Homo sapiens: one gene and its partners. The main gene of each other region encodes a partner of the protein of the gene in region 4 in a complex. Each region holds a gene or a part of one and is shown on either strand. Other genes may lie near its edges.

Evidence for each region.
Region 1: the proteins of SEH1L (region 4) and WDR59 are in contact, whole or in part, in a cryo-EM structure (PDB 7UHY), measured with the Homo sapiens proteins. Residues at the interface, in NP_112493.2 of Homo sapiens: Asn308, Tyr309, Met310, Asn312, Lys314; in NP_085058.3 of Homo sapiens: Pro713, Asp714, Glu716, Thr717, Pro718, Arg721, Arg837, Glu840, Gln843, His844, Asn847.
Region 2: SEH1L (region 4) and NUP37 share a complex: the UniProt entries of both Homo sapiens proteins name them as parts of the nup107-160 subcomplex of the nuclear pore complex.
Region 3: SEH1L (region 4) and NUP43 share a complex: the UniProt entries of both Homo sapiens proteins name them as parts of the nup107-160 subcomplex of the nuclear pore complex.

The regions. Positions count from the first base shown.
Region 1 is NC_000016.10:74,912,116-74,919,373, forward strand, and holds part of WDR59 (GATOR2 complex protein WDR59), read right to left. Parts: intron 5,894-7,258; coding exon 5,814-5,893; intron 4,145-5,813; coding exon 4,012-4,144; coding exon of another isoform or gene 3,987-4,011; intron 3,880-3,986; coding exon 3,755-3,879; intron 248-3,754; coding exon 83-247; coding exon of another isoform or gene 32-82; exon of another isoform or gene 2-31; intron 1-1. UniProt on the Homo sapiens protein: As a component of the GATOR2 complex, functions as an activator of the amino acid-sensing branch of the mTORC1 signaling pathway. The GATOR2 complex indirectly activates mTORC1 through the inhibition of the GATOR1 subcomplex.
Region 2 is NC_000012.12:102,117,088-102,125,288, forward strand, and holds the start of NUP37 (nucleoporin Nup37), read right to left. Parts: upstream 3,028-8,201; 5' UTR 2,963-3,027; intron 1,497-2,962; 5' UTR 1,432-1,496; coding exon 1,276-1,431; intron 1-1,275. Other genes in the region: PARPBP (PCNA-interacting partner), read left to right, coding at 6,802-6,954. UniProt on the Homo sapiens protein: Component of the Nup107-160 subcomplex of the nuclear pore complex (NPC). The Nup107-160 subcomplex is required for the assembly of a functional NPC.
Region 3 is NC_000006.12:149,743,509-149,750,996, forward strand, and holds the start of NUP43 (nucleoporin Nup43), read right to left. Parts: upstream 3,022-7,488; 5' UTR 2,988-3,021; coding exon 2,868-2,987; intron 2,555-2,867; coding exon 2,432-2,554; intron 208-2,431; coding exon 130-207; intron 1-129. Other genes in the region: PCMT1 (protein-L-isoaspartate(D-aspartate) O-methyltransferase), read left to right, coding at 6,220-6,448. UniProt on the Homo sapiens protein: Component of the Nup107-160 subcomplex of the nuclear pore complex (NPC). The Nup107-160 subcomplex is required for the assembly of a functional NPC.
Region 4 is NC_000018.10:12,957,990-12,965,247, reverse strand, and holds part of SEH1L (nucleoporin SEH1), read right to left. Parts: intron 2,089-7,258; coding exon 1,877-2,088; intron 813-1,876; coding exon of another isoform or gene 753-812; intron 1-752. UniProt on the Homo sapiens protein: Component of the Nup107-160 subcomplex of the nuclear pore complex (NPC). The Nup107-160 subcomplex is required for the assembly of a functional NPC.

The DNA of each region.
Region 1 (7,258 bases), on a different chromosome or scaffold from region 4:
CTGGAGTTTTCATTCTTCTTTACTAATCCATCTAGACAATGATGCAGAACAGCAAGGAGAATTTGGGAACCCAGACCCCCACCTTCAGCAGCTTAGCTTTCATGGTGGATGTGATGGTTGTGGGGTTAATAAACTGGAAGGAAGGGGCGGCGTTGTTTGGGTACTGTGCAGGGAACTTCACCAGCATCTTGACACGATGGTTGCTGCAGTGCACAGACACTGTGCAGCTCCTGTCTGCCGCATCCATCTGCAAGAGACAAATCCACAATTGCTGTAGAAACAAACCATAAAGCGTCTTTCGATGCAAGCACATTTAACTGAACGCTCCATGTTCCTGGTAATTGAATGAAGGGAAAGAGTCTACAAAGACAAATGTGTGTGGAAGACAATTCATTTTCAAAAAGATTCTTAAATTTTCATACCAGATTCTTAAAATTTTCAAACCAATGGAATAAGCTCAAAGTTGCTGAGACCAGCTCGGTCGGGGTGACCCTAAACCAGCAGTGCCAGAAGAATTAAAGACACACACACAGAAATATAGAGGTGTGGAGTGGGAAATCAGGGGTCTCACAGCCTTCAGAGCTGAGAGCCTTGAACAAAGATTTACCCATGTATTTATCCACAGCAAGCCAGTGATAAGCATTGTTTCTATAGATTATAGATTAACTAAAAGTATTCCTTATGGGAAACAAAGGGATGGGCTGAAATAAAGGGATGGGCTGTGGCTAGCTATCTGCAGCAGGAGTATGTCTTTAAGGCACAGATTGCTTATGCTATTGTTTGTGGTTTAAGAACGTGTTTAAGCGGTTTTCTGCCCTGGGTGGGCCAGGTGTTCCTTGCCCTCATTCCGGTAAACCCACAGCCTTCCAGCGTGGGCATCACCACCATCATGAACATGTCACAGTGCTGCAGAGACTTTATGGCCAGTTTTGGGGCCAGTTTATGGCTAGATTTTGGGGGGGGGGGGGGCCTGTTCCCAACATGTCCCCCTTCTTTGATTTGCAAAGTGATAAAAGCAAAGGCAGCTTTGTCACGGTGAGCTACTTCTTGCAGGAGTCAAGATCCACATCTGCAGACTACACAAAGACAAACAACACAGAGGGTCAGTTTATGGCCAGATTTCAGGGGGCCTGTTCCCAACACAAAGTATTCTTTTTTTTTTTTTTTGAGACAGGGTCTCACTTTGTCACCCAGGCTGGAGTGCAGTGTGGCACAATCTCAGCTCACTGCAACCTCCACCTTCTGGGTTCAAGTGATTCTCCCACCTCAACCTCCCAAATACTGGGACTACAGGCCACCATGCCCAGCAAATCTTTGTTTTGTTGTTGTTGTTGTTGTTTTGCTTTTTGTGTTTTGGTAGAGATGGGGTTTCGCCATGTTGGCCAGGCTGGTCTCAAACTCCTGACCTCCAGTGATCCACCCACCTTGGCCTCCTAAAGTGCTGGGATTACAGGCATGAGCCACCACGAAGTTCAAAGTATTCTGACTTTAACAAAGCTTCCTCCCTCCCAAAGCTGTGGGGTAGACTGAAACTTGTTATATTTACTTTGAGATGGGAAAATAAAGCAGGAAGAAGTTAAATACCAGACTCAACTTAAAAAGTGCTCCTGGGAAAATCCATAGGGGAAGAAAGTAGATTCGGGATTGCCACGGGCTGAGGGAAGGGGAAATAGGGAGTGACTGCTCATGGGTATGGGGTTTCTTCTGGGAATGATGAATATGTTCTGGAATCAGACAATGGTAATGGCTGTACAACTTTGTGAATATACCCACAACAGCCAGATTATATACTTTAAAAAGCGGAATTTTGGCTGGGCACAGTGGCTCACGCCTGTAATCCCAGCACTTTGGGAGGCCAAGGTGGGCAGATCAACTGACATCAGGAGTTCGAGGCCAACCTGGCCAACATGGCAAAAACCCCATCTCTACTAAAAATACGAAAAAAAATTAGCTGAGCGTGGTGGCGTGCGCCCATAATCCCAGCTATCTGGGAAGCTGAGGCAGGAGAATCGCGTGAACCCGAGAGGCAGAGCCTGCAGTGAGTCACGGTAGCACCACTGCACTCCAGTCTGAGCGGACAGAGCAAGGCTCCATCTCAATAAAAAAAAAAAGATGAACTTTATACTGTGTGAATTATATCTCAATAATTTTTTTAAAGTACTCTCGAAGAAAGGAATCAAGATCTTAAACTAGATCACTAGGTATCCACACTGTCCTCAAATGGGACAAAGGGAGTATAAACTGACTTGATATAGATCACTAATTAAGCAAAGAATCCTTTATATCTTTTCATTTCTTGTGTTGCCAACTAGAGACAGCAGCTGGAGTAAAGAGAAAAGAACCACATGTGGCAAATCTGGAGACCTGGATTCACATGTTGTTTCTTCCACCAAATAGCTGCTGACCTTGGACATTTCTTCTCTTGATGTCTCCGTTTCCTCAGCTGTAAAGTGAGGCTAAAACCACTTACAGCAGACTATTTTTTTTTTTTTTTTCGAGACGGAGTCTTGCTCTGTCGCCAGGCTGGAGTGTAGTGGTGTGATCTCGGCCTCACTGCAAGCTCTGCCTCCTGGGTTCAAGCGATTCTCCTGCCTCAGCCTCGTGAATAGCCGGGACTACAGGCGCACGCCACCATGACCAGCTAATTTTTGTATTTTTAGTATAGACGGGGTTTTACCATGTTGGCCAAGAAGGTGTCGATCTCTTCACCTTGTGATCCGTCTACCTTGGCCTCCCAAAGTGCTGGAATTACAGGCGTGAGCTACCGCACCTGGCCAGCAGACTTGTTTTAAAAGCCACATGAGATAGTTATGTAACAGCACATATTTGGGTAAAGGAAAAACTAATCAAGCTTTAAAACTCCTTTCTGGAGAGATACTCAATTTTCTGAAGCAAAGACTTTCAATACTTGCCCCCAAAAAAGTAACTGTTCCACAGGCTAAGCAAACAAAGAAGTTTTGGTTGCCTTCTTACTGTGAATCTAAATTACCAGGAAATGGCCAGCCTGTGAGAGAAGATGGCACAGCCCAGCACAGCACAGCACAGCACAGCACAGAGTGCCCTGGACGGGCTGGAGGTTTGGCTTCCCAAGTCAACTCTGTCCCCAACTTCAGCAGCAACCTCTGCCAAATCACTAAGCCTCCAGGGCCTAAGTATCTTCCTCTACAGTAAAATGAGATGCTGGAGCATCTAAGGAGGAGCTAAGGCACACGAGCATCAGGTTCTCCTTTGGCTCATCTTAGGAGAAAAGAATAGGGGTAGAAAGAAAGTCTGCATCTCTTTATTTACTTATTTATTTATTTATTTATTTAATTATTTTATTTATTTTTTTTGAGACAGAGTCTTGCTCTGTCACCCAGGCTGGAGGACAGTGGTGCGATCTTGGCTCACTGCAACCTCTGCTTCTCAAGTTCAAGTGATTCCTGTGCCTCAGCCTCTCGAGTAGTTGGAATTACAGGCTAATTTTTTTTTTTTTTTTTAAGTGGAGACAGGGTTTCACCATGTTGGCCAGGCTGGTCTCAAACTCCTGGCTTCCTGGTTTCAAGTGATCTGTCCACCTCAGACTCCCAAAGTGCTGGGATTACAGGCGTGAGCCACCGCGCCTGGCCAGAAAACCCAGGAAATAAAAAAGCAAGCAGAGAGAGTTCTGTTAAAGCTGCAAAGCTATTTGCTAACTGAAATCATTGCTGAAATGGTTCCCTCTCCCACAAACTGCCATCAGCAAACATGAGATACAGTTGATTAAACTAAGTACCTCCACATTGACATTCCGGATTTGCACATTGATCAGGGAGAATTCCTGCTGCAAGGTCTGAGGCAGCCCCAGTTGATCTGATTTCCTCTCTTCCAGGAGATTTCTAGGGGGATCTTCTTTTAGGGCTAGCAGGAGAGAGAAGTTCAATGTTGGAAAGCATTTTTGAAAATGAAACAGAGAACAGGTCTGGGGTATCTGCCACAACTCTGCAATGCGTAGAGTGGCACCTTACCTGAGACATCAGTTTGACAAATTACCTTCTTCCTCCCCATGGCTTGCAGTGTGCTGGTGATCTGTATCTTCAGTGTGCAGGGTCTTCTCAGGTTCCGGCAGAAGGGAAATACTCTCAATGAACTCATCAACACCATCTAATATGTCATTTGCACAAAGCTGCAACAAAGGGTAGAAGATGTAGTTCTAGAGAAGTCCGTGGAAATGATTGTCATGTCTGATTAAAGAGTTCTGACTTAAAAATGGGAAGGGCAAAGGATGGGGATGTGTCAGCCAAGAGCTGACATAATCAAAATAGATTTTACCCATTGCCAACTCTCCCTGGTTAAACACCAGGGATAACAGACTCTATTATTCAACACTGGAAATTTTTTCATCATGTTCAGAGTTTATGCAAGCCTCAGAAAAAAAATTAATTTAAACTCCAAGCTTTGATGGAGTTATTCAGCTAATCCAGGAGCAAAAATATCATAACCGGCCAGGCGTAGTGGCTCATGCCTGTAATCCCAGCACTTTGGGAGGCCGAGGCAGGTGGATCACCTGAGGTTAGGAGTTTGAGACCAGCCTGGCCAAGAGGGTGAAATGCCGTCTCTACTAAAAATACAAAAACTAGCCAGGCATGGTGGCGGACGCCTACAGTCCCAGCTACTCGGGAGGCTGAGGCAGGAGAATCACTTGAACCCAGGAGGCAGAGGTTGCAGTGAGCAAAGATCACGTGGCTGCACTCCAGCCTGGGCAACAGAGAGAGACTCCATCTCAAAAAAAAAAAAACGAAAACCATAACCTCAAGGCATTTGGTGCAAATTGTACCTTTTGGAAAAAACAGATTGAAAATGCAATAAGGTAATGAGATTTGATCAAACTGCTCAAGAGTGACTTCATACTAAGCAGTGTTGAAATTTTTATCCAGTATTTTCTATTCATTCTGTGCAAAGCAATGTACCAAGCGCTGTGGGAGATCCAATACAAGTGAGACACCTTCCCACTGTCAAGAAATTTAGCCATCAAATGAGGAGAGGACAGAACCCTGTGATAAGGCAGAGCAGAGCAAGGGCCACCAAAGCAGCTCATGCCAGGTACTACTGTGTGTGGTTCATGTAAGAAACAGATATCATTTATCGGGAAAAAATTACAAACAGCTTCATAAAAGCAGTGTTGCTGATAGATGTAGAAGCCTCCAAGCATTTGCAGCGTACAAGGGTAGGCTTCTTAGCCCATTTAGAAGAGAAAGAAATGAACCCACAGGGCACATACTCAGGGAGCTACCCATACTATCTTATGCTAGAATAAGGAGGGGAAAGACATTTAGAGGCTCTCTGGCCTTAAAGTGCTGAATACTGAAGTTGGTTCTTAAAGACCTCAAAGCCTTGGTGTGGTACACACCAGCTACTCAGCCAACCAGTAAGTATGTATTAAATGTCTATCCTGCCGGGGAAGGTGGCTCACACCAGTGATCCCAGCACTGTGGGAGGCTGAGGCAGGTGGATCACTTGAGGTCAGGAGTTGAAGACTAGCCTGGCCAACTTGGTGAAACCCCGTCTCTACTAAAAATACAAAAATTAGCCGAGTGTGTTGGTGGGCGCCTATAATCCCAGCTACTCAGGAGGCTGACGCAGGAGAATCGCTTGAACCCGGGAGGCAGAGGTTGCAGTGAGCCAAGATCGTGCCACTGCACTCCAGCCTGGGCGATTCAGTGAGACGCACTCTCAAAAAAAAAAAAAAAAAAAAAAAATTGTTTATCCTGTAACCTCTAATTTCCGCAAATCCTGAATCTTACACTTTTTGGTGGATTCAGGTACATTTCTCCACAATAGCACTGCATACATACCCTCTGCATCTGGGAATCCACCCGCCACATTCTCAAGGTCTGATCCCGGGACCACGTCACCAGTTGATAGTCCTTGGACCCTAGAAATCACCAAATAAGAATCCTGGAAATTCTTCTGGATTCAACGTCTATTTGCTAGAGGTTGAAATGGAGTGAGATTCATCCATCCATTCAACAAACATCTACTGAACATTTCTCATATGCCAGGCACTATTCTAGGTACCAGGACTACAGCATGAATAAAATAATTTCTATCTTTATAGATCTCGCATTCCAGTGGTAGAAAGAGACAAATATCTGATAAAACATCTGGTATAAAGAATAACACAGGATAAGAGGACAGAGACTGATGGTGGAACTATTTTTAGATAGAACTCCCCAAGGAAATCACATTTGAGCAGAAACTTAAATGATGTGAAATACTAACTGGCAAATTAGCAGGTAAAGAGCGATGCTGGGATTTAATGTCACACTAAACTTTCACCTCTGCAAATGTTCGTCCTTTTACATGCTCTCGAAGAGCTGGAGATGAACATATTTTTGCAAAACGGGTTATTTCAAATGCATCATGGCATCTTACCATTCAAAAGAATTTTTTGGTAAAGTGATGTATCTCTTTGTAAAATGAATAATCAATCCTTAATGTACTTAATTGACTGAATCATATTTTCATCTTAACTCTGGTCAAAGGGAAATTATCCTGAAAAGGTTCAGGGTGCTTTATGAAATAACTTCATGAAAGATCAGGACATTTGCGGATAATTATGCAGTATCTAGAATCTCCTTCATGGCCACCTTCAGAGAGCAAAGATTTTAGAAATAATTTCATCCAATTTCTTAATTTTATGGATGGGGAAACTGAGGCAAGAGAATATGATCTGTCCAAGGTCACAGGGTGAGTGGGCAGGAAAACAAGGGCCAGTTCTTATTGGTTCCTTCTCTGCATCACCACCTTCAACCAAAAATTCACTCTTCAATATTTCATACATCACTAGGCACAGCCAGCCAGACAGCAACTATTCTGAACCACGGCTTGTTACAAGTGCCACCATCTTGCCTCATGTCCACATCAACAATCTTCTGACCCTACATCTGGCTTCTCTTCCTGCCCCTGACTTTGACGAAAAGGTATGCCTAATTCCTTTCTAAATGTTATAAATTAACTCAACCCCTCGACCTGTGCCTCCCCCGCTGGTCCCAAGGGGCCCTTTGCTTCCCCGACTCCCTTGTATCTTCTCCCTGCCTTCCAACAGAGAGGGCAGCAGCCTCTCCCAACTGGCTGATTCTACGCCTTGCCTTTGAGGGTTACTTCATTCACTAAAACCGGTTCCTGCTGCCCCTGTTCATGCCACCCTATGATCTGGCTTCTCTCCTCAATTTGCTCTTGGAACACCTTTTTTTTTTTAATTTTTTGTATTTTGAGATAGGGTCTCACTTTGTCACTC
Region 2 (8,201 bases), on a different chromosome or scaffold from region 4:
TTTAAATCTTTGAAAATTGGACACTTCCAAATTACCGTGCTCATTATAATTTGAGAAATACGGTTCTATTAATAATATTCTGCTAGGCCAGGCAGGGTGGCTCACACCTGTAATCCCAGCACTTGGGAGGCCGAGGTAGGCAAATGACTTGAGGTCAGGAGTTCGAGACCAGTCTGGCCAACATCATGAAACCCCCTACTAAAAATACAAAAATTAGCTGGGTGTGGTGGTGCATGCCTGTAATCCCAGCTACTTGGGAGGCTGAGGCAGGAGAATCAACTGAACCCGGGAGATGAAGGTTATAGTGAGCCGAGGTTGACCTCCAGCCTGGGCGACCAAGCAAAACTCTGTCTGAAAAAAAAAAATAAAAATAATAATAATACTCTGATAGACAAAGGATTAACCAGATAGTCCTGAGGGTTGAACCTTCATTGTTCCAAGTCTCTCTTACATGTAAAACTAGCTTTCCTCTGGGAAAACATGGTTTATGTTCACCACAAAGCAATCTTACTTTGGTGATTAAACCTGAGAGTGTTACCACTGCTCGTATCAATGACAACTAAAACATACATATGGATTACAATGTTGTCAGATGCCCTCTTGGAATTTTTATTTAGTATATTTACATATACTAAAATTCAAGCATTAGTTTCCTCATGTTTACAGGAGATGCTAAATATCTTATTCAAGGTCTCATAGCTAGTAAGAAGTAAGTAAAGCAGGAGTAAACATGTAGGCATTCCAGTTCTAGAATTCATGCTCTTAATGGCTATGCTTAACTGCCTGCTCAATTAATATGACTCCATATTCTGCATACATTAGATGCACAAAAAGTATGACAGCATACTAATAGGAAAGCTGAATATTATAAAAGCTATAAAATCTCCTGGAAGATTGTTTTTTGGGCTCTCAACATTAGCTGGTTTTGTATGTCAAAGCAGGATGTAGAAAAACCGTAATTAATTGGATCTCATTTATATTGTTTTTTTCCTGTACATACCAATGTTCAGTTAATCATAGCCTTCACTTATCAGAATATTCCATTAATGATCATGAGGCAAAAGTGAAGCCTCATACCATTCTTTTTCACTATCTATATAATGTTTACATAAATCTCAGGCACATATAACTGGGAACATCTTTCTCTATGGATCTTATCTTTTTTTTTTTTAACATTCAAACTCAATATACTTTCAAAGTTTAGATTTGGTTTGTGTAAGTTCTCTTAGTAGTGAAATATGTTCACTGTCATTCGGTGCAGTTTTGTAGACTAACCTGAAACGTACACGTGCCAATGACCACATAATTATTGCCACCATATGCAATTAGGTTTCCTGAATCCCCATTCTCAAAGGGATTAAATTCTACCACATGCACATAATCTTCACAATCCACAGTGTAGGCAGCATTTCTTGAGGCATCTTGCTTCATCTTGTATGTCAAAATTCAAGCAGTTGTGAAAATTAAATAGCCTTCTACTGGACAAGGTCACGAAACTGTGGATTAGAGCACAGGTACAATTACAATGGTCAATATGTTAGTCATTCAGCAAATGCATCAAAATAAGGTTGTGGTGTTACAATGAGACAGAAAGCTCAAAAGAAACATTTAAAGTACTTATCAAGGGACAGAAACTGCAGGAAAAATATTAAATCTAGTTATTAATGGTTCCACATTTGCTCCACAGCTCTTTCCCATATCTGTGATTCTAGCAGACAATAACACTGCAAAGTTCTGTTTAGATTATCTAAAACAAATAGTATTTCATCTGAAGATGGAATCATTTTAACAGCAAATGTTAATAAAAATTAATAACTTTTATGAACCACTATTTGTAGGTACCATATTAAGCATTTTACTGACATGATCACATCTGGTATCTGTACAAATCTAAAGGCAGGTACTACCTCTGGTCTCCATTTTGTAGATGGAGAAACTGAGGCTTCAGTAGGTTAACTAACTTGCCAAGCTCATAAGCAGGGCCAGGATTTGGAAGACTTCATTGTGTGTGGAGAACCAGCGCTAATGAAGAAAAAAACAGCCTCCTGGCTTGAAGGAGACCACAGTTTAGGGATAGTTATGACTCAACGTGAAAAGGGCTATAATATAAACAGATAGAAAATACAGGATCTGTTGTTAAGGAGTACCAAAATGTGTGATATAAAAATAATGTTCAGGGGGTTGGGCGGAGGGAGAGCATCAGGATAAATAGCTAATGCATGTGGAGCTTAATACCTAGGTGATGGGTGTGCAAACCACCATAGCACACGTTTTACCTTTGTAATAAACCTGCACGTCCCGCACACGTATCCCGGAACTTAAAAATTAAAATAATAATATTCTTAAAACTAGGCAGAAGACCTTAACCTGTCAGGGACTAGTGTGCATTCTGGAAGTAGCATTCCCACATGAGAATTATGGGTTTTAGAGTTTTTGGTTTTTTAAAAAATTCGACACAAGGGTTGTCCTGAAAACAGCTGGACTCAGTAACAAACATATCAAGCACCTTAAGAGTATGTACTGAGAATGAGTCCCACCTCGAGACGCTTATAAACTAGTAACTTTAGGAATGGACATCAGGGACTGGAGACTTTTGAAGGGTGACCAGCAAGTGTTATGGACACGGAGACAGAGAGGTATAGAAGTGCAAGAGATTCGAGGTCACGAAATTGTTCCGTCCCTACACCTACTGCTCATTAAAGCAGTGGCCGGGGCCTCACCGTACACGTTGGACAGGACTTGCCCCTGTAAAACTACAACGGCAGAGAAGAAGGGAGGGAACAAGATAAGTCTCTGCAATGAGCGCCGACACCTCTCCCCGGGCCAGGCGAGTTCCTCAAGACCCCGCTCCCACCTCCCGGGGCCCGAAGTGGGAAGGAAGAACTCCTGGGAATAGAGTGGCAAGGCTGGGCGGCCGGCAGAAAAGCATCCCGGCCTCTCGGGCTCCCAGCTCGATACGCACCGCAGAGCGCCAGGAACCGACCAGAGGCAGGCTGGTCTTCCTTGGGGGCTGCCGCGACGCGCTGTGGCTCTGCTTCCGGGTCGGAGGGCGAGCGCAGCGATTGGCTCCCGGGGCCTCCCGCGAGGTTTGAACTGTATTCAGCGGCGACAGCGGCGACTGCGGCGGCCGCGGGAGGGCATCCCGTTGGGGATCCTTCCGCACACTGAAGAGTACGTCTTCGGGTCTACCCCTAATCACGTAAGTCTCGCGTCTGCCCTACCTGCCCTGTCGCATTTTTAAGTGGTGATTCAGGCTGTGGCTTTTGAGGGTGTTTTGCACTGTAATACCTCGGTCGTAGCAAAGTGCCGTGGGACCGAAGTATTATGGTGCAGTGACTTGACGCTCGAGCCTGGTTGGGCCTGGGGGCTGTAGGCGGAGTTCACAGTATCTAGCGATGGAGCTGGTAGGTCCTGAGGGTTCGTCTGCAGCTTGGAAGACAGGCCCGTAGAGGCCTGCTTAACTTCCATTAGTTAGGCAGGAAACCTGGGTTCTAGTCCCACTATGTACACGGACTCCAATTCCTCAACTTTCTCCTACTCCTGATTAGTTACAGCCTCCCAAGGAACCTTTGGGACTTGCACTCGAACACTGATAATGATGTTGAGTGCAATTTTTAAATTGAGCACCTACTAAATGCCTGGCACTAGGTGGGTTATGTACTTGTTTCACTAACGTCTCATTCTGTGAGGTAGGAATTCCCTTCCTGGTTTTGCAGGTGAAGAAACTTATGCTCATTAGAGATTTTAAATACCGAAGGACTACAGGTCATAAAGGGGGAGCCTGGAAGTGATATCTGACTCGGAAGTGTAGTTCTTTCAACCATTTCACACTGCCTGCCCAGTGACAATTTTCTGTCTCACAGTTTTTGCTCTAGAGCAACTTGGAATCCAATTTTTTAAAAACAAGTGTTATCGCTGCTGCCTTTGGCTACTGTTTTTTTGTATAGTGCAGCCTGCCATTCAGAGTGCTTGCATATTTATTGTCTCATTGACTTCTCACAAGGGACTGGAAGGCAAGTATTTCTGTGTGATGATGCCTCCACCTAGGAACCACGTGTAAGGCTTATGGCATAGGCTCCCACAGCCAGCTAGCTACAGGAAGAGCTGGGACTAGACCAGGGGTTGGCAAACTGGCTGTGCTGCCTGTTTTTGTGCAGCCAGCTCCTGAGCTAAGAAGGAGTGTTACGTGTTTATATGGTTGGGGGAAAAAATGAAAAGAATAATGTTTTGTGATGTGTAAAAATTACATGAAATTCAAATTTCAGTGTCCATAAAAAAAGTTTTATTGGAGCACAGCTATACTCATTTGTTTGTTTATGTATGTCCATGGCTATTTTCACACTAGAAGGTCAAAGTGAGTAGTTGTGCATGCCTCAAATATTTACTGTTTGTTCCTTTAGAAAAAATTAGCTGATCCCTGAATGAGACTCTTGGTTTTCTGTCACCATAGTAATGCTCTTTTTTTTTTTTTTTTTTTTTTTTTTAAGACAGAGTCTCACTCTGTCACCTAGGCTGGAGTGCAGTAGTGCTATCTTGGCTCACTGCAACTTCCGCCTCCCTGGTTCAAGCGATTCTCCTGTCTCAGCCTCCCAAGTAGCTGGGGTTAGAGGCACACACCACCACACCCAGCTAATTTTTAGTAGACAGGGTTTCACCATGTTGGCCAGGTTGGTCTCGAACTCCTAACCTTAGGTGAGCCTCGGCTTCCCAAAGTGCTGGGATTACAAGTGTGAACCACCATGCCCAGGCAATGCTCTTTTACTTTTAACTCAAAACAACTTAGAAACTCATAATGCATGATAATAGCTAATGTGCTTTTATACATGCCAGGCACTGTTCTAAAAGCTTTACTTGTGTTTATGTCGTTGACTTGTCATAAAACCCTATGGGATAGGGTTTTCATTTTCATTATGAGGAAGCTGAGGCAGGGAAAGGTGATGTAACTTGGCCAAGATCTCGCAGCCAGTAAGTGGTGGAGCCACATTTCAGAATGGCCTAATTCCCAAGTGAGTCTTCATTCATAGCAATCAAATCTCATAATACTACCTTTAAATAATACCAGTAAGTAATTTACTCCTAAAAATGTATTTCAGGCAAAGTGACCATGTCACTGAAGCTGACAGTTCTTCACTTTCTTTTTTCTTTCAAGAGATGAGGGTGATTTTTTGAAGAGAAATACAATTCTTAGCTATTTACTAGGATTTGCATTTATGTAAATAATTAATCTCTAATCTTCTACCTGTATCTTTAAGTTGCATCATAGATTGTGTCTATAATTTAATTATATTGCAAGTGGCATGTATCTTTGCTCTTGATTATACAAACCAAAGTAAACATCTAGGATTCTGTTTATGCCACATAAAAATAGAAGAAAAGGATAGCAGAAGGAGTCAGGAAATGGAATAAGTACAGGAAAATACCCAAAATAAGATGATGGGCATGTGAGTATGTTGAGACTTGAGTACTTAAAGTAGGAAAAAAACTTTTAGCAGGCATGTCTGTAAACTCAGAGAAAGGAATTGGATGCCTTATATAGTCTTGGGTATATGAAACATTGGCACTACCTCAAATTATTTTGAAAGGCTTTTGTGTGCATCAGGAGAAGTTACTTAACATGATGCTTTAAGAACACAGCTTATAGAGTTAGACATATTAAGTTTATGCTGTTTGTCCACTTACAAGCTGAGTGACGTGGAGGTTATTAGGTAAAATAAGGATAATAACAGACCTGTCTTATTGGACACTTATGACAGTCGAGTGAGGTAATCAATATTAAGCTTTTGAAAAGTATCTCCACCAAGTTAGCTCCTAAATATTAGTTATTTTATTGGTTATGTAGTACGGTGTAACAAACCATTTCAAAAGTTAAGGTTTTAAAATAACCATTTCCTTCTGATTCTGTGGATCAGCAGTTTGGGTGGGACACTGCTTGGTGATACTCTAGTGGTCATACAGGACACAATTCCTCCTGTTGTAATAGGTGGTGACAACACATGTGAAATGTCTACCAGGGAAGCTTATTAGAGACTTAATGCCCAGGGTTTTTATTGGGGGCTAAATGCAAAGGCATCCACTGTCTGACATGTACCAAAATTCCAGACTCGCAAGTGTTTAGCATAAACTATATTGTTTGTATGAACAGTTTAGCACAGTGAACCACTCTTACTGGAAACACTCCTGAAATCTAAGCTCCCAAACTGGACTCCAGCTTCAAAGGAGAGCATTCAGGCCTATTGTATTAGTACTTCTGCACACACCACTTAAGGCCTAAGCTCAGAACTCCCACAGCGTCATTCTTGCCACATTCTATTGGTTAAATCAAGTCACAAGCCTGGTCCAGATTCAAAAGGGTAGAAAAATAGGCCACCTCTTTTGGGACAACGTAGGATGGGAGGAAATTGGCTTTTTAGGTTTTTTTTTTTTTTTCCCAATTTATCAGACTTATTACCTATCTCAAAACAAATATATATATTTAAATACAGCTTTAATTAGGTATATTTGTAATTATAAGTTTGCAGTAAATTTGCATGTCTGTTTTTGTGTGAATTTTCAGAATTGAAGGCTACATTTTGTTCTTTCAGAAGGTTTGGCTTAAGAAACCAAAGGGGAGGGAAATATGATTGCGCAGAAATTGTATTATTTTGTTTTCCTAAATTTAATTAAAAGCAATCTTGGTAAATATGAAATGACCTCTCATTCACTATATGTTTTTCTCTATCTGTGCTTGCCTATACATGTTAAATGTTAATTTCAGGTTAACATAAGATACTTTAACTTTGTATTCTGTCCTACTTTAAGATAATGGCTGTGTTTAATCAGAAGTCTGTCTCGGATATGATTAAAGAGTTTCGAAAAAATTGGCGTGCTCTTTGTAACTCTGAGAGAACTACTCTATGTGGTGCAGACTCCATGCTCTTGGCATTGCAGCTTTCTATGGCGGAGAACAACAAACAGGTTGGTAAACTATATTTGGGTTAACTTGTTTTTTTAAAGCAAAATTTCATTGCTGCCCATTTGAATAAACTTAAGCTTAAGAATATTAATTTCTTTACATTATGTGCCCTTCTGTGATAATACACCATTTTCACAAATGCCTCTGTGTATCTGTGTCAGAATGTTATGATAGAATTTGAAATGAATTATTTCAAAATTAAGCTCTTATGTATGGTTATACACGGGACATGCATATTTGATGTTTAATAGGAAGATTTAGGATAAACATGTAACTATTATTATTGTGGTCAAATTATTTTTATTTAATAAGACTTTTTTCATTCCCTAAACTTTTAAAAACTACTGGCTCTTGTACCCCAATCCTGGAAATTCTTCCAATCTGCACCGGGATACTGGAAACTGCCTTTAAAAAATTTCCACAAAGTGATTCTTACTTAGGTAGCTTGAGCCAAACTAGCGTTTGGATTTAAGCCGTAGATTAAGGGTTAGAGGTGTTCAGATGAGAGAAGGATGAATGTAGGATAGAGTGGTAAGGAAAGGCTTTGTGATATTAGATAGATTTTAGATAAAGGAAGAGAAGGCTGTAGAGGAGGTATGATGAGGAAAGTCAGTTCAGAAGAAGGGTTCAGGGGAATCAAAGTCATGGTATGAACTTGGCAAAGATACTGGCTTGACTAGAGAAGAGGATTTTTGAAGGGTAGAATTAGCTTCAATGGGTCTGTTGGGCTAGATATTGAAATGACATTCTGATGAGTTATTTTAATTTTATATGTCAGTAGTTTCCAGATTTTTAGATTCCATAGACAGTAAAATTTCTAAAAAATTATTAGACACTGACAGATTTTAACCATTTCTCATTTTTGCAAATAAGGCCATTGAGAAAAAATAGTTACTATATACTATGATCATCATTTTGAAAAAGGAAGAATATTTTAACACTTAAAAATTAAAAAGTATAAAATCTTAAAACAGGGATAGTGTTTTCTACCTGTGAATAGTTGGCAGTTTTGCATATTTTAAACAATGCATGTTAAGATAAATTTTGAATCTCGAAAACAATGACAAAATGTTATTTTATTTTATGTAGTCAGTCATTTTTTGAACAAATATTGAGTTTTTACTGTGTGTTAGACATCATTGTAAAAATTGGGAATACAGTAATGAAAGAAGTCACTTCTTATGGAGTGAACCTTCTAGGGAGAGATAGCTAGTACTGTAAGATATTTAGTCTTTTAGGACATAATAAA
Region 3 (7,488 bases), on a different chromosome or scaffold from region 4:
CACTTGAACTCAGAAGGTGGAGGCTGCGGTGAGCCGAGACTGCGCCACTGCACTCCAGTGCGCGGGCAACAAGAGCAAAACTCCATTTCAAAAAAAAAAAAAATCACTTCTCAAACTAAAGTTCTTTACCTGGTTATTTGGATGGTGAAGGAAAACTGTTACACATCCTGTTGATGAAGCAGCGACAATTCTTTCCTGGTCAAAAAACTAAAGAGAAAATTTCTGCTTGTTAAAGATTCAGAAATATTAGCAGGGAGGAAGTCCATTTGTTTATTTAACTCAATTAGTAGCAAATCTTATAACAATTTTAAAAAGCAAAGAGCCATGAGTGCTAAGGAAATAAAATGTGTTAATGAAGCTGAAAGGCCAAACTGCCATACAAAGTATTTTCATGAATAAACAATATTTTTTCCTAGACACATTCACCCACAATTGATTTAATTTGGGACCAACACAATAAAACCTTAGGAAAATATTATTCCTGGCTGGGTGCAGTGGCTCACGCCTGTAATCCCAGCATTTTGGGAGGCCTAGGTGGACGGATCACTTGAGCTCAGGAGTTCAAGACCAGCCTGCGCAAGATGGCGAGGCCTCGTCTCTACAAAAATACAAAAATGAGTTGGGGTTGTAGGGAAGTGGAGGTTGCAGTGAGCCAAGATTGAGCCCCTGCATTCCAGCCTAGTTGACAGAGCAAGACTCAGTTTCAAAAAAAGAATAAAAATTTTAAAAAAGAAAAGCCAGGCACGGTGGCTGACGCCTGTAATCCCAGCACTTTGGGAGGCTGAGGCAAGCGGATCACGAGGTCAGGAGTTCGAGACCAGCCTGGCCAATACGTTGAAACCTCATCTCTACTAAAAATACAAAAATTAGCTGGGCGTGCTGGCATGTGCCTGTACTCCCAGCTACTCAGGAGGCTGAGGCAGAAGAATCACTTGAACCCACGAGGTGGGGTTGCAGTGAGCCGAGATCGAGCCACTGCACTCCAGCCTGGGTGACAGAGCAAGACTCGTCATAAAAAAGAAAAAAAAAAAAGGAAAGGAAAATATCGTCTGGGCATGGTGGCTCACACCTGTAATCCCAGCACTTTGGGAGGCCAAGCCGGGTGGACCACGAGGTCACGAGTTCAAGACCAGCCTGGCCAACATGGTGAAACTCCATCTCTACTAAAAATACAAAAATTAGCCAGGCATGGTGGCATGTGCCTGTTGTCCCAGCTACTCGGGAGGCTGAGGCAGGAGAATTGCTTGAACCCAGGAGGCAGAAGTTGCAGTAAGCTGAGCTCTCGCCACTGCACTCCAGCTCGGGTGACAGTATAAGACTTCGTCTCCAAAAAAAAAAAATGTATCTTTCCTAGAGCTAGATAGCTTTCTTTTTTATTTTATTTATTTATTTATTTATTTATTTATTATTATTATTTTTTGAGACAGAGTTTCGCTCTTGTTGCCCAAGCTGGCGCACTCTCGGCTCACTGCAACCTCTGCGCCCGGGTTCAAGCGATTCTCCTGCCTCAGACTCCAGAGTAGCTGGGATTACAAGCGCGCACCAGGGCTAGGTAGCTTTCTATGGAAAATGCAGGGGCTCTCCACACCAGGATTTGAAAACTTAATTTCGGCCGGGCGCCATGGCTCACTCCTGTAATCCCAGCACTTTGGGAGGCCGAGGCAGGCAAATCACCAGGTCAGGAAATAGAGACCATCGTGGCTAATATGGTGAAACCCCGTCTCTATTAAAAATACAAAAAATTAGCCGGGTATGGTGGCCTGCGCCTGTAGTCCCAGCTACCCGGGAGGCTGAGGCAGGAGAATCGCTTGAACCCGGGAAGCGGAGGTTGTAGTGAGCTCAGATCATGCCACTGTACTCCAGCCTGGGTGACAGAGCGAGACTCCATCTTGGAAAAAAAAAAAAAAAAGAAAACTCAATTTCATCCCCACCACTCATTACTGGTTTTGAGACTTTGGCCAAGTTAAGTTCACTAAATCGTGGTAAATCTTTAAAACGGGAGCACTAATCTCTACTTAGGGAGTTGTTATGAGAATTCAAAAAACAAAATGATGTTATCCCCCTGCACAGTATCTGTCACATAGTACATGCTCAAGATATATTAGTCTCAATTTTCTCATTAGTAAAACAAAGTAACGATACTTGATTCACTGGCATGCAACAATAATTAATTTTTGTAAAGCTCCCCAAACGGTATTTAGCACATAGTCGACAGTCAATTAATAAAAAAGTATGATTAAATCTACATCCCCTTTCCCAGTCCTTTTTCTGCCACTAAATGGCTAAATGATGTTGGGCAAATCATAACTTACAGAGCACTCAGTTTTCTGTAAACGAGGGGTGACACCAGACAACTTTTATGATGCTCTGCTTGTTTAAATGTATTACTCAGGACTTTCAAAGTTAGCTTTTGGATGCTACACAGATTTACCTGTAAATCCATTACATCACCATGGTGTCTGATATCACACAATAACTGATGGTCTCCTTCAAACCCTCCATCAGAGTCCAAGTTTCCAAAATCTCCAATAGACCACAGTGAAATATAATTTTCCTGTAAAACAGAAAGTTTTGTCTTGAGATGACATAAACGTCAACTCTCGGAAAATAAAAGTTGTGCTCCCGTCCGGAAATGTTGCTCCAAAACATCTCAAATGGTATGGTGAGTTTAAAACACAACGAGATACGAGGCTCAGGCATGCCATCACCGGCTCTGAGCTACGGAGCAACCGCGCCTGAGACAGGGGTCCGGGGGACCTAAAAGTGCGAGAAGAACCAGAAGGTGGGAGTTGGCGCGCGGAAGGCCAGGGGTCAGCTCAACCGGAGAGAGGGAGGAGGTAGGGGCTCGTCCCTATCAGCGGCGATACCTCATTGTCCCAAGATCCTGTAGCGAACGTCTCCGCGGTCTGTAAACTTCCCGGAGGCAGCGGTCGCCAGCGGGTTTTGCTGATTTTCTGGGACACAAACTTCGCATAAATTTCCTCCATGCCGAAAGCGGCCGCAGCAGGTACTGCAAAAAGCAAGCACAGTACGCGCCTCTCAGCACCGCCTCTTCCCGCGGAACCCTGATTGGATGGGACTTTAGGACGGAGACGGTGGCTGCAGAGAGTCAATTCTCGTCGATAGCCAGTGTGGGCACAGTCAGTACCTAGACTGAGAGGCCCACCCATCTCACAGAGCAGCTCTGAGCAAAGGCAAGAGCGCTTTGGCCTTTGAGCAGTAGGACTTGCTCCTAATCTGCAATGTCAGTATTTTCTTGTGTTCAATAATTGTGCAGTGTAAAATTTAAGTGCAAAAACAGAACAAAAACAATGCAGTAGAAACCACCTTGAAACCACACCTAAGCAGTTGCAGGTCACTGCGCATAGAAAACGATTCAAAAATCCTTAAATACTCGTGGAAGTACCTCGAATAAAGTGCCAACCTACTATCCCAAACCTCTCCCTCTTGTCTCCCAAACAAATACTTTGCTTCAAAGTTAATACACACTGTCAGAGCCTGGAGTTGGAATTCTGAAAGACTCCAGTTTTAGTTTTGATGCCAATTGCCTAGCTTTGATCAATTCAATTACGTGCATGATTAAGAATGAAGTTTGTGATACCTATTGTCAACGGCCCAGGAATCAGTTTTCTAGGTTCCTTCTGTGCTTTTGGTTACACCTATAATATTCTTCCCTTCCTCTTTACTCCTCAGAATCCTGCCTATCCTTCAAGGATCTGTTCTTTCCTTTACCATTTCCTGACGACCCCAGCCAATGTTGATCTAAATCAACACCATTTTTTTTCTTTTTTAAGACAGGGTCTCTGTGGCCCAAGCTGGAGTGCAGTGGTACAATCTCAGCTCACTGCAACCTCTGCCTCCGCCTCCCAGGTTCAAGTGATTCTCCCACCTCAGCTTCCAGGGTAGCTGGGACTACAGGTGTGCGCCACCATGCCTGGCTAATTTTTTTTTTTTTTTTTTGGAGAGACGGGATTTCACCATATTGGCCAGGCTGGTCTCGAACTCTTGACCTCAGGTGATCCAACTGCCTTGTCCTCCCAAAGTGCTGGGATTACAGGCGTGAGCTAGCATTTGATATCTAGACCACTAATGACATATATTTTGGATATATCTTATGTTAGTTTTCTTTAGATGCATATTCCTCCCCCATTAGAATGTAAATCCTACTGAATACAAGAGATATGACTTATTCAACTAAAAAATGAAGCTCTTTTACACTATAGGTATTCATAACTGTATGTTGGTTATTTCTTTAAAAAGGGCCATTATGCTACTGTTGTTTTTATGTGATATTGGTAGTCCTACTTCACAGGGACAGTTTACGGAAGCACTGCATGTAAATGCAATCCATCTGGGTCAGCTTTAGAGTTACCAGTTTCCTATCAAGGATTTGACTTTTTTCTTTTCTCCAAATGGAAGATCATCAAGAAACTGTAGAAAGATGAAATGGAAAATATTAAGTGGGTTACAGTCCCAAATCAACAATTTTATTCATGTTTAATATTGAAGTAAAGAACACTGTTTTGGCCAGGCACGGTGGCTCACGCCTGTAATCCCAGCACTTTGGGAGGCCAAGGCAGGCAGATCACGAGGTCAGGAGTTCAAGACCAGCCTGGTCAACATGGTGAAACCCTGTCTCTACTAAAAATACAAAAATATTAGCTGGGCATGGTGGTGCGTGCCTGTAATTCCAGCTACTCGGGAGGCTGCGGCAGAATTGCTTGAACCGGGACCTGGGAGGTGGAGGTTGCAATGAGCCAAGATCATGCCACTGCATTCCAGCCTGGGCTACAGAGTGAGACTCCGTCTCAATCAAAAGCAAAAAAACAAAAAGAAACCAGTTTTGCCTGTAGTTTCATTTATGGTCACATAATCCCAGAAAATAGGTAATGTTGATTTTGGATTGGAAGCAGGCCAGTGTCACATTTTACAAAATCGGATAAGAACTAGAATTTGAAAATTGTGCTGATATAGTGGCACAGATGTCTTAGCTTTGTTTCCTTCTAAAAGATTACTGGAGGCCGGGCGCTGTGGCTCATGCCTGTAATCCCAGCACTTTGGGAGGCCGAGGCGGGCGGATCATAAGGTCAGGAGATCGAGACCATCCTGGCTAACACGGTGAAACCCTGTCTCTACTAAAAATACAAAAAATTAGCCGGGCGTGGTGGCGGGTGCCTGTAGTCCCAGCTACTCGGGAGGCTGAGGCAGGAGAATGGCCTGAACCTGGGAGGCGGAGCTTGCAGTGAGCCGAGATCGCGCCACTGCACTCCAGTCTGGGCGACAGAGCGAGACTCCGTCTCAAAAAAAAAAAAAAAAAAAAAAAAAAAAGTTACTGGACTAGATGATGGCTGGATTCTGTCAGTCTCAGGTCTAATTAGGAGTCAGCGATTTGGACGCGACAAGCAATGTTCTCAGTGAGCTTCTCACTCATGGTCTTGCAGAGCTGAGAGCAATAAAGCCACGGTGGAATTTGTGAGGCTTAATTAGGTGGAAATGCACACTTACGTCGGGAGAATAACACGTTCACCAAAGGACACAGTGGTATTTTTTAACCAATCGCAACTCTGTACGTTGGTATTATTCTAAGGGAGCAAAGCTTTGCCCCAACCCCCACCCCCATGTCCTGGTACTCTTCCACTCTGAGAGCTTTAGAACCGGGGTTCCAAAGTCTCTGCTTAGCCTAACAGTGACGTGCTTGTCACAAAGCCAGAGGCCGGTGTACTCGGGTTAGAGAGGGCCTTTGTCGTTGGGTTTTATTCTTATTGTATTATTCGGGCTCCACCGACCCAAATATTAGTCAACTGGGTTGGGCGAGGTAGGACGGATGAAGCCCACCGTCTAACAATCTGGACATCTATAGGAGCAGATCCGCCGCTCGAAACAGCTGACCCAGCGACGACTGCGGAACCACTAGCAGCGTCTGCACAGATCGACCCCGCCATCCCGCCGTCCCGCTCGGTGACCGGAGACACAGCCGGGAACGCGACTGATCAGGCTACCGAGCCGGGCCGCAGGGCGAAAGCGGTGCGGTCCGAGGCCTCAGAAAGGGACACGCAGCAGCGGAAGTGGCGCTGACTCAGCCCGGCCTCCCTGCAGTCCCCTGGCAGCGGTAGCAGCCACAGGGGCGGGCGGCTGGGCCACACGCCTCCCCCGCCCTCGGCCCCACCCGGCCGCACCCTAAGCCGCGCGGCGTCACAGAGCGCATGCGTGCCGCGGGGGATGCCGGGAGCGCGCAGTGGCGGCAGCGGCGGCGACGGCAGTAACAGCGGCAGCTACAGCGGGGACGCGAGCGGGGCGGTGACGGTGTGGGAGGTGGTCTCACTCTTGGGAAAACTGCTGGGCACCGTCGTCGCGCTGAAGGTGGTTCTGTACCTGCTCCGAGTGTGCTTAGCGATGGCCTGGAAATCCGGCGGCGCCAGCCACTCGGAGCTAATCCACAATCTCCGCAGTAAGTGCCACCTCCGCCCGTTGTAGGGCAGCTGGGGCAGGCTGGGCCTGGACCGGGTCCCCCTGGGCCGTCCGGAACGTTCTGTCTGTCCCCGCGCGCCTGTTGGAGGGCTTCGGCGCAGAGTTGCCCCGGTAGTCCCGAACGGCGTGCGCTTGCAGTCGCCTCCCTCGGGACCTGTCACTCGTCGACGACGTGGACTGGAAGGGGAGAGAAAGAGCCAGGGGCCGCTGCTGGTGGGGGCAGGGGCAGTCGTCTCCCTGCAGGCCCTGGGGGAGGGAGTGCAGTACAGGTGATGCTGCTGTCACTCAGGTCCGCGTCCGGGTCCGGCTTGTGAGGGGCGTGCCTTCGGGGTGGGAGCGTGTGGGCTAGGCCTTATGGAGAGTGGGCTGGCGCTCAGGAGACCCCACCCTCGTCCCCTGCATTTTTCTCACCTTCCTCCTCCATAATCAACCTCGCTGCAAGCTTTCCCTCTTATGCAGCCTCCCCCGCCCTCCGTTTTTTCCCCTGGAGGGAGATGCCACCGTCTGATACAGGCGAGGGGAGGAAGATGAGAGTATTGCCATTGCAGATGCTGGGAGAAATTTCTCGGGCGGCTGTCCAGTGGAAAGCTCCGTGCGGGGCGGAGAAAGAACAGGGGATGCTGTTCCTGAGAGACTTGTATTTCAGGAGCCTTTGCAGGTCCTGGATCAGCAGAGGGTTGTGTGTCTGATGTTCTAACTTTTTTCAGGGCTACCATAGGCTTTAAAAACCTTATGTGGAGTTTCTTTATATCACTCTCCTTAGTTACTGTATTCCTTCTTCTGATGATAATTTTAGGATAGGATGAGTGCTGTGTCACTTTCTTTTTTTAAATCGAAATATAGCGTCCCCGTTTTGTTGGGAGACTACAAGGGCCGCAGTCTATAATAAACTCACTGGTCAGAATTTATAGCATTATTCGCTACTATGCAGTAATCATATCTTGTCACATGGTATTTTTAATTGTCCTGTGTTACTTAGCTTTTCATGTGTTTGTCTTATTTCTCAACTCGATTTGTAAT
Region 4 (7,258 bases):
AAGGTCAGGAGATCGAGACCATCCTGGCTAATACGGTGAAACCCCGTCTCTACTAAAAATACAAAAAATTAGCCAGGCGTGGTGGCAGGCACCTGTAGTCCCAGCTACTCAGGTGGCTGAGGCAGGGGAATCGCTTGAACCAGGAGGCGGAGCTTGCAGTGAGCCTAGATTGCGCCACTGCACTCCAGCCTGGGTGACAGAGCGAGACTCCACCTCAAAAAAAAAAAAAAAAAAAAAAGAATGAGGAAATGGAAGGGGCAATGTGAGGGGGAAGCAATAAACTAATTCCCTCTTTTTTAAGAGAGGGGAAGCCAGGCACAGTGGCTCACACCTGTAATCCTAGAACTTTGGGAGGCCAAGGCGGGCAGATCACCTGAGGTCAGGAGTTCAAGACCAGCCTGGCTAACATGGACAAACCCCGTCTCTACTAAAAATACAAAAAAAACTAGCCAGATGTGGTGGCGGGCACCTGTGATTCCAGCTACTTGGGAGGCTGACACAGGAGAATCGTTTGAACCCAGGAGGCGGAGCTTGCAGTGAGCCGAGATCATGCCACCACACTCCAGCCTGGGCAATAGGGCAAGACTCCATCTCAAAAAAAAAAAAAAAAAAAAGAGACGGGAGTAAATATATAGTCTAAAAATTGATAAATATGTGTAGAGATATATATATTATTTGAAATTATAATAATTACCAGTATAACTCCAACAACTATCAACATCACCACAAATAAGATATCTATCTAGTCATACCTTGGGATGTGGAAGTTGTATAAATGTGCTCTATTCATCTTTTCTATCAGTTTGGATATTCTTTAATGATAACATAGCAAGAACATGTGGAAAAATAGCAGAATAAAAATTTTTAAAAAAAAGATAACATAGCAAGAACCAAAGGTATAAGTAAATCCTTTAAAAATATACTAGTGACTACCAGAATTAAAGTCTGAAAACAGAACTATTGACAGCATTTGTTTTTAGGGGGTAAAGGAACTTTACCTTTCTTTTTGTATTCTTATGGATTATTTCAATTTTTTTCTTCACCAAGTGATTCTTATAATTGTTTAAAAACAGTTTAATAAAAAGCAACTATGGTAATATTCATATAGTCATGCTCTATGCAGCAGTTAAAAAGAAATGAGGTAAGACTAGATATATTAATATATGGAAAAATGCCCACAATGTATCTTTAAGTGAAAAAAGCTAATTGCAAGGAAGGAAAATGTAAGGGTTTCTGGCTGGGTGCAGCAGCTCACGCCTGTCATCCCAGCACTCTTGGAGGCCGAGGCAGGCAGATCACCTGAGGTTAGAAGTTCAAGACCAGTCTGGCCAACATGGTAAAACCCCATGTCTACTAAAAATGCAAAAATTAGGCAGACGTGGTGGCGCATGCCTGTAATTCTAGCTACTTGGGAGGCTGAGGCAGGAGAATTGCTTGAACTCAGGAGGTGGAGGCTACTGTGAGCCAAGATGGTGCCACTGCACTCCAGCCTGGGCAAATGAGCAATACTCTGTCTCAATCAACCAATCAATCAATCAATCAAATGTATGGGTTTCAATATCTGGTGTTCTGTGTCTACTTGTGCTAGTGAATATCTGGGCGTGTTTGCATATATGTGTTTATGACAACATTAAATAGTTATTTGCATATGCATAGAAAACATCCAAAAGGTTCACATGAAAATATTTACAATGCCGGCTTCCTCTGTTGAGTGAAAACAGGGACAAATGACATGCCTGGGTGAAAAATGGAGAACATATACTCTATATATCTTGAGAAGAAGCACCTTTGAGAGAATAAATTATCAAATTGTTAGCTTAAAAGTTACTAGTTTATTTTACTAGGATGTTATCAGAGGTTTAATATGTAAACTTACCTTGAAGGGTTCCAAGAAATACAACTACAGCTTAGCTTACATGAGATCTCATGCTGCAAAGACCACTGGCTGAGATTCATAACATCTGGTGCCTCATAGATTCTTACTATACCATCTGCGGAACAGGTTGCTAACATAAGACCCATGTGCTTGGGAGCAAACTTCACATCAGTAACAGATGTTCTGCTATCCACCAGAGTTGTCCTTTTAACCTAAAAAAAAAATAATAACAATTTAAATTATATACAAAAAGAAAGCATGGTAGAGTGGAAAAGACACACAGACTCTGGAATCACACAGAAACTCCTCTATCATTCACTAGGTATATAAGCTTGGATACATCTCTGGGCCACAAGTTCCTACAAGTACATGGCAAAATACCACATATATAGCTGGGAATCACTAACAAATTAGTGAGCTATAATTAATTACTCCCTTTAATGAAAAAAAAGTCTACCTCCAAAAGCCTACCTTTGTTATATAAGTAATCTCTCTTAAGCAAACTGATCACAAAAAAAAAAGAAAATGTTAGAATTTTCAGACAAGAAGTTTTGTCACACAAAGCATGCTGCAAGCATTAGACCCTTTAACTGTAAATGAGTTGGGCGTGATGGCTTACACCTGTAATCCCAAAACTTTGGGAAGCCGAGGCAGGCAGACTGCTTGAGCTCAGGAGTTCAAGACCAGCCTGGGCTACATGGCAAGACACCGTCTCTACTAAAAACTAAAAAAAAAAAAAAGCCAGGTGTGGTGGTGCACGCCTGTGGCCCCAGCTATTCCGGAGGCTGAGGCGGGTGGATCGCTTGAGCCAGTGGGGCAGAAGGTACAGTGAGCAAAGATCGCACCACTGCACTCCAGCCTGGGTGACAGAGTAAGACCCTCTCTCAAAAAAAAAAAAAAAAAAAAAAAAAAGAAAGGCATGCAATTTCTTCTCTCAAGAATAATTTTCTGTTAATCCCATTTGGACCACTATTATTATTATTTTTTTTTTTTTCTTAGGGACAGGGTCTTGCTCTGTCACCCAGGCTGGAGTACAGTACCATGATCATGGCTCAAGTGATCCTTTTGCCTCAGCCTTCCCAGTAGCTGGGATGACAGGCACCTGCCACCATGCCCAGCTAATTTTTCTTATTTTTATAGAGATGGGGGGGTCTCACTATGTTGCCCAGATGGGTCTCAAACTCCTGGCCTCAACTGATCTTCCCACCTCAGCCTCCCGAGTTGCTAGGATTACAGGTGTGAGCCACTGCACCCAGCTACCATGCACTTTTAAGTGAAGGCTTTTAACAGGGACCAAAAGAATGGTAGAAAGCAAGCTTTATGATCACTGTAAAATTCCAACATCACATTTAAAAGTTATCTTCTGGCACACAGATAAGATGAAACTTTACTAAAAACATCAATAAGCTCAGGTGCAGTAGCTCACGCCTGTAATCCCAGCACTTTGGGAGACTGAGGCGGGTGATCACTTGAGGTCAGGAGTTCAAGACCAGCCTGTCCAACATGGTGAAACCCCATCTCTACTAAAAATATTCAAATTAGCCAGACATTGTGGCGGGCGCCTGCAATCCCAGCTACTAGAGAGGCTAAGGCAGGAGAATCGCTTGAGTGTGGTCGGCGGAGGCTGCACTGAGCCGAGATCATGCCACTGCACACCAGGCTGGGTGGCAGTGCAAGACTTTGTCTCAAAAAAAAACTAAGTCAATAAAGTTTAGCAATCAACAGATTACTGTCTATGGTTACCAAAATCCTTCTTAAAGAGTCTCAACATTAAAAGGATAATATTACATAAACTTCAAAGATAACATCTTAGCAAACTTTTGTCTACAGACACCACTGAATAATTAATACAAACACAAATGTTGAGAAAATAAATGCATTTGTTACAGTAGGTAGTCAGACATGAGCAGGGCAGCAGAGGACCCCACCCCACCAGGAATGTCAAGCAACCATCAGGTGATGATCAGGCAGTTGTTAAACTTTCTCTCTAAACTAATCATTGGTTGCAGCCAGTGCCAGGGAAAGGTAGTCTCCCAACAGATAGAAACACCTGAAACTGGTGATCAGCAGCTTCCTGATAAGATCTGAGGAGTTGGATGACTGGGCTCAAGCATGTGCACTAAGAGGAAAAATGGTGGAGCTTAACTGATCTATGACCTTCTAGGAACATTCTGTTAAGGGAAAAACGCCTCAAGTGAGCATCTGCGCAACTCCAGTAAACACACTGCACACGCAGCCCCTCCCAGGCACTAGTGGGCCACTGCACATGCGGACTGCCCACCCCAAGGGAAGAATCAGAGAAGAGACGCAACCCCTGGGAAGCATGCCAACGTGTAACAACCCAAGTCCAAGATCAAACCATGCATTTGACTCTCTCAAGTCACCCACTTGGCCCTCTTCCAAATGTATTTTACTTCATTTCTGCTGTAAAATTTTTTAACAAATTTCCACTCTGGCTCTAAAACTTATCTTAGTCTCTTACTCTGCCTTATGCCCCTAGGTGGAATTCTTTCTTTTGAAGAGGCAAGAAATGAGGCTGCTGCAGACCCATATGGATTTGCCACTGCTAATATATTAATGAAAGATGACTAAACTAAATACAAATAAGTATCTTGAAATTCAAAGAAAAGTCCTTCTTATGCCACCACTCCCAAATCCAATCTATAGTATACTGAACTGACACACCTCAGACTTAACGCCAAAAAAACTTTTATAATTCTATAAATTTCTATTCCTTCCTCCCCATAAGCAGCTGTTTGGCTTAGGGAAGCCCTAGTGCAAAGGCAATCAGACATACTCCTCCCCTGAGAAGAGCTGTAAAACAGTCTGAATAGCCACTCAAGCTACAAAGCTACCGGAATTAAAACAGTGTGCTATTAGGACAAGGAGACATACAGATAAATGTCCACAAGAGAGCCCAGAATGCAATCCTCCATATATATAGCCATTATTTTCAACAAAGGTGTCAAGACCATTCAACAGGGGAAAGAATGGTCTTTTCAAGAAATGGTGCTGGGAAAACTAGATTTCAGCACCCTAACATTTTTTAATGACTGAAATAAATAATTTGTATCAGGCCCTTGCTTGCTTGCGCATGTTAACCACTCACTTTTTGCTGAATATCCCTTGTTGCCACAATATAATGATAAACTGTTGATGTACTGCTTCTTTGTCAATCAAGAGAAGATAACTTCAGCGTCATGTAAAGAAAAATGTTGCCAGAAGAAATGAATGGCTTTAAGGACACTGTGACCAGCTGCTAACAACCAGACATCTGGTTGCTCAAGGCGTTACCTGAGACCAAAGAAACACAGACTTTTCCACTGGATTCTGTGAAACTCCCCCTCCCTTACTAGATCTAGTCACATAAAATCTACCCAATGCTTCCTTTTGTTTAGATGGATTCGAGAGATCTTGCCCTCCCATCTTCTTGCTTTAGCCAAATCGAATAAACCTTTCTCTATCTCCAAGTACCGGTGACTCAGTGTTTGCTCTCAGCTCCACATTGGGGATACAAGCCTGAATTGAGGATTCTATAACAATCTTAGAAGAAAACATTGGGGAAAGTCTTCATGACACTGGATTTGGCAATGCTTTCCTGGATATAACACCAAAAGCATGGGAAACAAAAGAAAAAAATTTAGATAAACTAGACTTCAAAATTTTAAAATTTCGTGCATCAAAGGAAACCATCAAGAGTGAAAAAGGCAACCCACAGAACGGGAGAAAATATTTGCAAATCATTTACAGGTTGTGCATATCAAATCCAAAAATCTGAAATCTGAAATGCTCCAAACTCCAAAACTTTTTGAGCACTGGCATGATGCTCAAAGAAAATGCTTATTGAAGCATACCGAATTTCAAGTTTTTGGATTTAGAATGCTTAACTGGGGCTGGCCACGGTGGCTCACACCTGTAATCCCAGCACTCTGGGGGGCCAAGGTGGAGGATCGCTTGAACCCAGGAGTTCAAGACCAGCCTGGGCAACTCTATTAAGTAAATAAATAAGTAGGCGAATGCTTAACTGGTAAGTATAAATGCAAATATTGCAAAATCCAAAATCCAAAATCCAAAACATTTCTGGATCCTAGCATTATGGATAAGGAATACTCAACCTATAACAGATAAGGGATTAATATCCAGAATATATAAAGAACTCCTATAACAACAAAAAACCCAATTTAAAAAAATGGGCAAAGGATATGAATAGTATTTTCCCCAGGAAGACATACAATTGACCAATAAGCACATGAAAATAAGGTCAACATCAGTAATTATTAGAGAAATGCAAATCAGAACCACAATGGAGATGCCACTTCACAACACAGTCACTAGGATGGCTACAATAAATAGCACCACAACAAGTGCTGATGAAGATTTGGAAAAACTGGAACCCTTGAGCATTGCTGGTAGGAATGTAAAATGGTGTAGCTGCTATGGAAAAGTCTGACAGTTCCTAAAAACGTGAAACATAGAACTACCATATGAGCCAGCAATTCTACTCCTAGGTATATTTCCAAAAGAATCGAAAGCACGGTCTCAAACATTTATCTGTACAACAATGCTCATAGTAGCAGTATTCACAATAGCCACGAAGTAGAAACAACCCAAGGGTCCATCTACAAATGAATGGATAAACAAAATGTGGTATACACACACAATGGAATATTACTCAGCCATAAAAAGGAATAAAGTTAATATATGCTACAAAATGGACAGACCATGAAAACATTTTACTTAGTGAAATAAGCCAGTTGCAAATGGACAAATACTGTGATTCCACTTACATGCAGTACCTAGTCAAATTTATAGACAGACAGTTGAATAGGGGGTAGAGGGAGGAGGAAGGGGGAGGCATTCTTTAAAAATATGGAGTTTATGTTGGCAGTGATGAACAGTTTTGAGTACAGATAACAGTGATGGGTACACAGCACTGTGAACGTAATTAATTCTACTGAATTATACCATTTACAAATAGTTAAAATGGGCCAGGCATGGTGGCTCACGCCTGTAATCCCAGCACTTCAGGAGGCCAAGGCAGGAGAATCATTTGAGATCAGGAGTTCGTGACCAGCCTGACCAACATGGTGAAACCCTGTCTCTTCTAAAAACACAAAAAAATTAGCCAGGCATGGTGGCACATGCCTGTAGTCCCAGCTACTCAGGAGACTGAGGCAGGAAAATCGCTTGAACCCCGGAGGCGGAGAATGCAGTAAGCCGAGATCCCACCACTGCACTCCAGCCTGGGTGACAGAACAAGACTCTGTCTCAAAAAAAAAAAAAAAAAAAAAAAAAAAAAAAAAAAAAGTTAAAATGAGGAATATTATGTTATACATATTTTACCACAATAAAAAATTGCATCATGGCCCTCGTAGTGGCTCA